Homo sapiens: one gene and its partner. The protein of the gene in region 1 purifies or fractionates together with the protein of each later gene. This does not show direct contact. Each region holds a gene or a part of one and is shown on either strand. Other genes may lie near its edges.

Region 1 (4,479 bases):
AGTTGACCATCTGACAACAGAACAGCCATGGATAGTGTTAATTAAGGAGGGGGTTGCAGGGTTATTCTTGGGTGTTAACTTACAGGAGTTCTGCTTTTGTTCATCCTGGTTTATATTAATTGCAGCTTGAACTTTCCCAATATTAAAACAGTTAATGAATTATATGAAATATACTGGATATTTCCTGGTTTGTGCCCCAACCCAGAAACTCCTTAGAGTCACTAATATTATTTGCAGTACTAGCACCTTTCTTTGTACAATTCTTATAAACTGATTTCTGCTTACTGGTCTGGCTGAACTTTAAAAAATATATGTAATCTATGGGTTGATTATGCCTCTTGGCCTAAGGCTTCCAAGAGAAATACTGAACCGGGGAAGAGTATATATGAGAGTGTTTAAGGATGAGTCTCTCATTACACACGTACTAGTGGCAAACAGCAAATGATTTTTAAATGAACATGGGTGAACAGAAGTATGCTCAGTATGGATAATAAAAATTGATTCTATATTCTTTTTTAATTTTTAGATTTTTATTTATTTATTTATTTTTGAGCCAGAGCGTTGCTCTGTCATGTAGGCTAGAGTGCAGTGGGTGTGATCTTGGCTCACTTGCAGCCTCCGCCTCCCAGGTTCAAGTGGTTCTTGTGCCTCAGCCTCCCAAGTAGCTGGGATTATTGGCGTGTACCACCATGCCTGGCTAACTTTTTGTATTTTTAGTAGAGATGGGGTTTCTCTATGTTGGCCAGGCTGGTCTTGAACTGCTGACCTCAAGTAATCTGCCCATCTTGGCCTCCCAAAGTGCTAGGATTTCAGCTGTGAGCCACTGTGCCTGGCCCTGGTTGTATATTTTTGAGCCTTGTGGAATTACTAATAACCACAAGTCCCTTAGCAGCTTTTTCTTTTTTCTTTTCTTTTTTTTTTTTTGAGATGGAGTCTCCCTCTTTCGCCCAGGCTGGAGTGCAGTGGTGCGATCTCTGCTCACTGCAACTTCCACCCCCAGGTTCAAGCGATTCTCCTGCCTCAGCCTCCCACGTAGCTGGGATTACGGGTGCCCGCCACCGTGCCTGGTTAATTTTTGTATTTTTCGTAGAGACGGGGTTTCACTATGTTTGCCAGGCTGGTCTTGAACTCCTGACCTCAGGTGATCCACCCGCCTTGACCTGCTAAAGTGCTAGGATTACAGGCGTGAGCCACCATGCCTGGCCTTTTTTTTTTTTTTTTTTTTTTTTTTGAGACAGAGTCTCACACTATTGCCTATGCTGGAGTTCAGTGGCACGATCTCAGCTCACCTCCTGGGCTCAAGTGATCCTTCCACCTCAGCCTCCCTAGTAGCTAGTACTATAGGTATGCACCACCACACCGAGGTAATTTTTGTAGAGATAAGGTTTTGTTGTGTTGTCAGGCTGCTCTTGAACTCCTGGGCTCAAGCAATGCGCCTGCCTTGGTCTCCTAAAGTGCTGGGATTATAGGCGTGAGCCACCGCACCCAGCCCTTTCTTTAGAAATTAATTATGTATCATACACATCTGTTTCATATATCTAAGATGTGTTGTAAACTATCCGGATACTCAGTCTTGAATTCTCTGGCCCCTAATAGTAAGCCCCTTATGTTGCTTGGTCCTATGATGATTCTGTATTCCTCATTATCTTAGGTAGTTGCAGAAGAAAAGATTTTGGCCAGGTGTGGTGGCCTGTAATCCCAGCACTTTGGGTGGCTGAGGTGGGAAGATTGCTTGTTCTTGGGAGATTGAGGTTTCAGTGAGCTGTGATCATGCCACTGCATTCCAGCCTGGGTGACAGAGCAAGATCCTATCTCAAAAAATATAAAAATAAGGAAGAAGGCATTGTAAGGGATAAAGGATGCTAACTGTTCCCTGGTACTATGTTACTCCCGTTTCACGTTCCTGTAAAGGCTAATCATTGTTATGTTGGTATGTAGTATGTTACAGTGAAACCCAGCCAGAGCCAGGTACTCAAGGGCATGTTCGTACCATCCTGTTCAGGCTGTCGCACTCCACAGATTGAACAGGCTGTGGGCATCGTGGGAGCTGTCATCATGCCACACAACATGTACCTGCATTCTGCCTTAGTCAAGGTGAGCAAGGCCCTTATCTCCTTCACCTCCTAGACAGTTCATGGGATCTTTTCCTTCAATTGCAAGGGACACAAAGTTAGTTTACAATTATTAGGACCATGAAGGAGCAAGGTATTTTCCAAGCCTGGACATTTATAAACTCCATATACTTAGATGCTGTTTTTATCACCAAATTGACCAGAGATTACTAACTGCATAAAGCAGGTGGGGCTAAAGTTCTTTTTTTTTTTTTTTTTAAATTGAGATGGAGTCTCACTCTATTGCCCAGGCTGGAGTGCAGTGGCGTGATCTCTACTCACTGCAAACCTCTCCCTCCCGGGTTCAAGTGATTCTCGTGCCTCAGCCTCTTGAGTACCTGGGATTATAGGCGTGCACCACCATGCCTGGCTAATTTTTCTATTTTTAGTAGAGATGTGGTTTCACCATGTTGGCCAGGCTGGTCTCGAACTCCTGAGCTCAAGCAATCCACCCGCCTTGGCCTCCCAAAGTGCTGGGATTACAGGCGTGAGCTACTGCACCCAGCTGGGACTAAAGTTCTTCATAAAAGGTTGGAAGTGCATCAAGTCTCTTGTGTTTAAATTTCAAAAGCTCGAGTGGCCTTATGGAGGTCAGGAGTAAAGGAGCCCAAACAGGCTTTTACTGTCAGTATTATGTAATAGTTTGCTGGGAGATTTTAGAAACCTTTATAAATAGGTATATGCACACCTTAGGACTGAAATCAGGTCGTTTTTATAGGTCAGTGGTCCTTCCAGCCACTGAGAGTAACTGAGAGCTCAGTAGTCATTTAGTCTCTGTTCCCTATTTGGGGAATGTACAGTTCAACGAAAGGGCATGAAGTTCTTTTTTCTCCCCCCATATGAAGTTCTTAATTGCTCAGTGAACTAGGATGTAGGTGAGTGTTGGATCTCTCACTTTTCGTCTGGTCAACTTTTGTCCCCTAAATCTCTCAGCTGACTCCAAACTCCTGAAATGTCACAAGGAAACTTGTTCTAACTGGTCAAAAAGTGACTGCTGTTGTTATCTTTCTAGTCTAGACAGGTAAACCGGAACAATAAGCAGGAAGTTCGAGAAGCCAATAAGTACTTTTTCATTGAATCCTGCATTGCACTCTTTGTTTCCTTCATCATCAATGTCTTTGTTGTCTCAGTCTTTGCTGAAGCATTTTTTGGGAAAACCAACGAGCAGGTGGTGAGTAAGCCAGGGTTATGGGTGGTAGTGAATGTGAGGGTAAAGTGAAGACTGCAATGGGATGGGGAAGGAAAATACCTCATCCTAGTGTTAATGTTCAGGAGAAATAATCTCTAGCTTCTCGTCTGCCCCCCAAAATCACTGTGCACCAGTCAGAGTCTACAGTATGGGGCTGACCAAGCCTGGACCCTCTTTCTCAGCTTTTGTTTGGGAGTAGTCAACAAACAGAAAACAGAAACTGTGATGATGACAGACTTTGTCTTGTCATTTTGAATTCTGTATCAATCTTGATTTCTGATTACCTATGTAGTGTTTTTTTTGAGACGGAGTCTTGCACTGTCATCCAAGCTGGAGTGCAGTGGCACAGTCTTGGCTCACTGCCTCCACCTCCTGGGTTCAAGCGATTCTCCTGCCTCAGCCTCCTGAGTAGCTGGGATTACAGGTGCCTGCCACCACACCCAGCTAATTTTTTGTAATTTTAGTAGAGATGGGGTTTCACCATGTTGGCCAGGCTGGTCTCAAACTCCTGACCTCAAGTGATCCACCTGCCTCGGCCTCTCAAAGTACAGGGATTACAGGCGTGAGCTCCTGTGCCTGGCCTGCCTGTGTAGTTTTGATCACCATTTGTTTCCCGTCTATGGAACCTCTGACTCCTCTGTCTGCTTTGACTGAGGATTCTATTCTGGGTGTTCTCTCATGTCTGAAGCCTTCTTCAGAGCCTCTCCTCTTGTCATCATTTAAAGTACCCCAGCGTTTGTACATTATTACCATGCACACTGTAACTCAGTAAAGATTTTTGATGACCTGTGGGTGTAGAAGGATTATAGAGGAAGATCCTAGATAACATTGCTGCTAGTCTCTGCCCACATCACAGCATATGTCCAGTGTTTTCCCTCCAGCCTACCTCTTATAGATGATTGTGTATGATATGTAGGAGAGCTCTTATTTGGTCCTTGCTTCTGAAACAAAAGTTGCTGTTGAATTGCTTTGGGTTCTAGGTTGAAGTCTGTACAAATACCAGCAGTCCTCATGCTGGCCTCTTTCCTAAAGATAACTCGACACTGGCTGTGGACATCTACAAAGGGGTAAGCATGTTTGGATTTGTGATCTTTGTTCCTGAATCAGTATTTTTAGCATAGTATGTGGTCTTTTTTGTGACTTCACTTCAGATATGAGCATATCTCCTCTGGAGTGTCA
Region 2 (5,010 bases), on another chromosome or scaffold:
AGAGACAGGGTTTCGCCATGTTGGCCAGGCTTGCCTCAAACTCCTGACCTAAGGTGATCCACCCGCCTTGGCATCCCAAAGTACTAGGATTACAGGCGTGAGCCACCATGCCTGGCCATGGGATGTCATTTTTGAGTTTGGTTAATGTACAGGCAATTCTGCAATATCTATGTTTAAGACATTAAAAGCATGGTTTCTAATACTAGACTACTTAGGATTGAATCTTGGCTTCACTACTTCCTAGCTGTATGATCAAGGGCAAATTGCTTAATCTCTCTGTGCCTCAGTGTTCTCAGTTGTAAAACGGGGATAATAAACACGGTTACTGTGAGTACCAAATTAGTTAATACATAACGTAAAACACTTTAAACAGTGCCTGACATCTAATAAATGCTATCTAAATATTATAATAGAAATTTATGGTTAAAATAGAAGAATTAACTAAGTTGAAGGACTGTACAATAAGCCATCAATATGTTTCTCAATCCCAGACAGACCCCAGAATGAATTTTTGCAATCTACCTGTCAGTATATATGCACATGTATCTTATTGGAAAACTCAGCAAAATCATAAGATTTAGGTCCTGGCCCTCAACTATTTTCCTTAACAAAATCTACTTTAGGGAGATGCTGTGAAGGTAAAAATTAGCATGTCCCAGGGAAAGCTCATTGCACACTACAAAGGACTATGACAATAACAGGCTTTAGATTTATTTTCTACATTGGCTCTAGCATTTTAGAAGGGTACTTTTACTACTCAAGCCACTTTCCTGCAACTCTCCCCCGAATTTCCCTCCTTCACAGTGGCCAACCTCAAAGCGTTTTCAATGTAAGTGCCTTTCCTGTTAGTGAGACTTCCCTATGAAAATAAATAGTTTAAAGGTTGTTGGAGCCTAAAACTCACTAAGCCTGGAGAGAGATGTGACTGTCATCTGAGTTACACGTGGTTACAACTTCTGTTTCTCAGATTATAGATTAACTTGCTTTCTTATTTTTCTTGTTCTATACAATGGCTAGAGAGAATTAAACGAAGTTAAGGACAAAAACTTCCTGCCTTCTTAATGATCCTTATAGATTAACTTCTGCTTTGTTGCCCCGGTTTGCTTAGACCAGATGACAGAAAATCCTTTATGAAAAATGTTAAATGTACACTTCCCAAAAAGAAACACTGTCTATAATCAAATTGTTGTAACTATTCTCTAACCTTGTATGAGAAAATGCTGTAATCCTGCTAAAAAACCTCTCAGTTTCTGCCTATATAAGTGAAATCTTAAATCTCTACTTCGGAACGCTGACTCCTTCCTTGGAGTCGGTGTTTCTAGGTAGGCTATCCTCAAACTTCGCGCTTTTGATTATTTTACATTGACACCTCCTGTCATCCGCAAGCTCAAAGGCAAGGCTAATAAAAGATGGCAGAGAGCCAATTAGGGACAGAGCCATGTAATCCTCATACCCAGGTGAGTTTAGGGCAGTCTTGCAGAAGCAGAAGCAAATTGTGGGGTCACGAAACCCTCCGGACCCGCCCGCCTCCACCACCACGCGCCCCTATGACCTTCGACCCCTCCCTAGCCCCAGAGCACGCCGGGAGTTGTAGTTCCCAAAGGCCTGTTCGGGCCAGCGCAGGCGCTTGGGGTTTCCCTCCCACCCAACCCCCGCACTTTACCGGATAAGGAAGCGGCCCGTGCTGCCACGCAGTCGCCGGAACGCGGGCGGGGGCTTCTGGGAGTTGTAGTCTGTTGGGGGCGTGCGCAGTCGGTAAGGAGACGTAGCTTTCCGTGGGGTGTACCACTGCAGTTGGTTCCCGGCGGGAGACGCAGGGTCAGTCTGTGACTCTTCCCCTACCACGCTCCCGCAGAGGCTGAGGAGGCGGTTTCGACTTCTCCTCCGGCTTTCTGTCTTCGGCACTGTGTGCTTCTTGCTCCGCGGTTTATTTCTGTACCTAGTCCTCCCTCCCCTCTTCGGTCCATCTCCAAAGCCCGGGCTTGGCGGGGACTCGCCCTCCGGTAAAGGCAGGGCCGCGACCTCCTAAAACCCGGTCGCCGCCCTGCAGGAACCTTCCTCACTCGGCCCCTCACACCGGGTTTCCGCACTGACCCTCCTTCGCCTCGGTCCTCGCTGCGCTCACCTCCTTCCACTCTTTTTTTTTTTTTTCTCCTTTGCAGGGATGGAAGCTTCCTGGCGCCAGGTGGCCGGTGGCCGAGGCCGATCCCGGGGACGGGCCACTGCCGCCCCCTCAGGAAATGGAGTCCATCTCCGCGGCGCCGGAGGAGGGCGAGAGAAGGGGTCGGTGGGCGCAGTTCCTTCTGGCACCAGTCCCGGAGGAGTCGCGACCACGGCGGCTGCAGGGAGCAGGCACAGCCCCGCAGGATCCCAAGCCCTGCAGACTACCGCAGCCAGCGGTGAGAATGGCTCCCGCCCGCGTGCTCACCTGGATGCCTCCTAAGGCAGTTACTAGTCAGGACCGCCTCCGCCCTCGCCTTCTTTCTTTCACTGCTTTTCCCCTCGTTCGGGAGTTTGTTATCGGGCCCACTTCTCCAGCCTTTCGGGTGGCTGCTCTTTTCGGCACTCTAGGTAGATTTCCATCGCACCTCTTTCATCTTAATTTTAGGTGGTATTACCTTTGTTACTTCCCTCCACTCTTGCCTACTTGAATCTCCAGACCATCAGTTGTAAATTGTGGCCCGGTGTTCTGATTTGGTCTATAATGTTGTTTGGTTAACACAGAGTTTTAAATGTGGATTGATTGTCAGCGGTTGTTTGTCGTTTTTAAAAATCTGGTTAACAACCTTGTGGCTTTAGTTATCTTTGTGCATGGCAACAGTCAGCTCGGCTGAGTCACAGAAATCCCATTTAGATTGGACTTGGGCATTCCATCTCACATTCTCTCTCATTTCTGGAGCCAGGTGTCATTTGTCATCTTTACCTTTGCCTTTGTTTCTTGACTTGTCTTATTCCTTGTAAGCACTTGAGCTTTTGATACCTTCCTTGACTGTAGTTCCTATTTACAAATTCCATGTCCTTCTGTGGACATATCTGGTGTTGCCTCCGATATATCAATACTTTTCATCCAAGACCATGTTTTCGTGGAGCCAGGGAGGACTTACACACAATTGTGCATGGGGCCGAGGGAATAATCCCTGAAATCATTTTATTTTTGTGTTTGGAATGCATTTCAGGATACATTTTTTTGGGGGGTGTGGAGCAGAATTGAGTATCTTGAATGATTTTTCTCCTAGGCTAATTTGAAAGGTAGGTGGTATTCTCTTAGCATGCAGTTAATGGCCGTGATGATAAGGTATACAATATGGAGACGTGTGAACAGGTTTGGTAAACTTTTTTTTTTTTTTTTTTTTTTTGAGACAGAGTCTCGCTGGTCGCCCAGGCTGGAGTGCAGTGGCGCAATCTCGGCTCACTGCAAGCTCTGCCTCCTGGGTTCAGGCCGTTCTCCGGCCTCAGCCTCCCGAGTAGCTGGGACTACAGGCGCCTGCCACCACGCCTGGCTAATGTTTTGTTTTTTGTTCTTTGGTTTTTTTTTTTTAGTAGAGACGGGGTTTCACCGTGTTAGCCAGGATGGTCTCCATCTCGTGGGTAGAAGGAAAACAAGCATTCTGTCCGGGCGCGGTGGCTCAAGCCTGTAATCCCAGCACTTTGGGAGGCCGAGGCGGGCAGATCATGAGGTCAGGAGATGGAGACCATCCTGGCTAACAGGGTGAAACCCCGTCTCTACTAAAAATACAAAAAATTAGCCGGGCGGGGTGGCAGGCGCCTGTAGTCCCAGCTACTCGGGAGGCTGAGGAAGGAGAATGGCGTGAGCCCGGGAGGCGGAGCTTGCAGTAGCCGAGATTGCCCCACTGCACTCCAGCCTGGGCGACAGAGCAAGACTCCGTCTCAAAAAAAAAAAAAAAAGAAAGAAAAGAAAAAGAAAACAAGCATTCTCTACCTGGACAGTTGAGATTTGGCTGTAAGAAATAATACGTGAGAAGGTTGTCTTGTCAGCTTCTCTTTACTTTGAGATGATGTTAGGTGAATACATTTATCAGGTTATGAATGTTCTCATTATCTCTGTCCAGTTCAGCCTGTTTTCTTATGTATCTTTTAAGTGCTAATTTCCCGTATATTAATGACATTTATCATCTCTTTTGTGACAAGTTTTGAGTTATATATCTCATAGCCAGTTCTTTTTTCCCAGTACTCAAAGCTTGCTAGGTAAGCATGATACACATTTTCGTCGAGGTTTACTTGAAATACTCAATTTGTTTTGTTAATAACCCCTAACCAAACTGGCTGCAATAAGAAAAGGAAAATGTTTCATGAGGGAACATAATCAAGTACGAATATACCACCCAAGATAAGAGAGCTTATCTTGGTAGTGGCTTATCAGTTTTAAGTATAATGTTAATTTTAAAATAGTCAATCAGTAAATTTAAAATCCTCTCAAGATGGGAATTCATGAACTCAGATCAGTTCTGCAGGTTTGTGGCTCCTTTCTTAAACTATGTTTGCTGTCCGTAAGAGCTTATTAACACTTAGTGCTTGAAGAAAATCCCTGTGGTCCTTGCTCTCAAGAAGTTTGAAGTTTCTTTGGGAGTATGTGCAGTGAAGTAATCTGGTTTTGTTTTGCATGATTAATCAAGTAACAAAATGAGAAGTACAGGTAGTGCTGAATAGTGGAAGAACGAATCCAAAATTAACATTCTTTTTGGAATGAAGTTGGAAGAAACATGTTTTCCATGTTAATACTTTGTGTGGATTAATGTAAAATATGTTTTTTTGTGTGACCACAAGAAGTCCATAATAAAGGCAAAAAGTTCTTGACCTAAGAAGCCGATTGTAAATATAGTGGGTGCATAGTGAGTACTGTTGGTACAAACTCTTTGGTAGGGCTGGACTGGACTGGGCTGGGCCGTCGTGTCCTATCCTACCTGTTGTTCAGAAGACGGTAGTTTGAAATACCTACCTTCCCTGATTCTTTATGTGCTCACTGTGGACATGTTCCCTCACTTCTTAAAA

Evidence for each region. The genes of interacting proteins can lie anywhere in the genome.
Region 2: the proteins of SLC11A2 (region 1) and NFXL1 purify together in Homo sapiens (affinity purification with mass spectrometry; one large-scale study listed by BioGRID and IntAct). This does not show direct contact.

What each region holds. Positions count from the first base shown.
Region 1 is NC_000012.12:50,994,432-50,998,910, reverse strand, and holds part of SLC11A2 (natural resistance-associated macrophage protein 2), read left to right. Parts: intron 1-1,938; coding exon 1,939-2,094; intron 2,095-3,123; coding exon 3,124-3,282; intron 3,283-4,280; coding exon 4,281-4,367; intron 4,368-4,479. UniProt on the Homo sapiens protein: Proton-coupled metal ion symporter operating with a proton to metal ion stoichiometry of 1:1. Selectively transports various divalent metal cations, in decreasing affinity: Cd(2+) > Fe(2+) > Co(2+), Mn(2+) >> Zn(2+), Ni(2+), VO(2+).
Region 2 is NC_000004.12:47,911,358-47,916,367, reverse strand, and holds the start of NFXL1 (NF-X1-type zinc finger protein NFXL1), read left to right. Parts: upstream 1-1,784; 5' UTR 1,785-2,003; exon of another isoform or gene 2,004-2,141; intron 2,142-2,162; 5' UTR 2,163-2,164; coding exon 2,165-2,399; intron 2,400-5,010.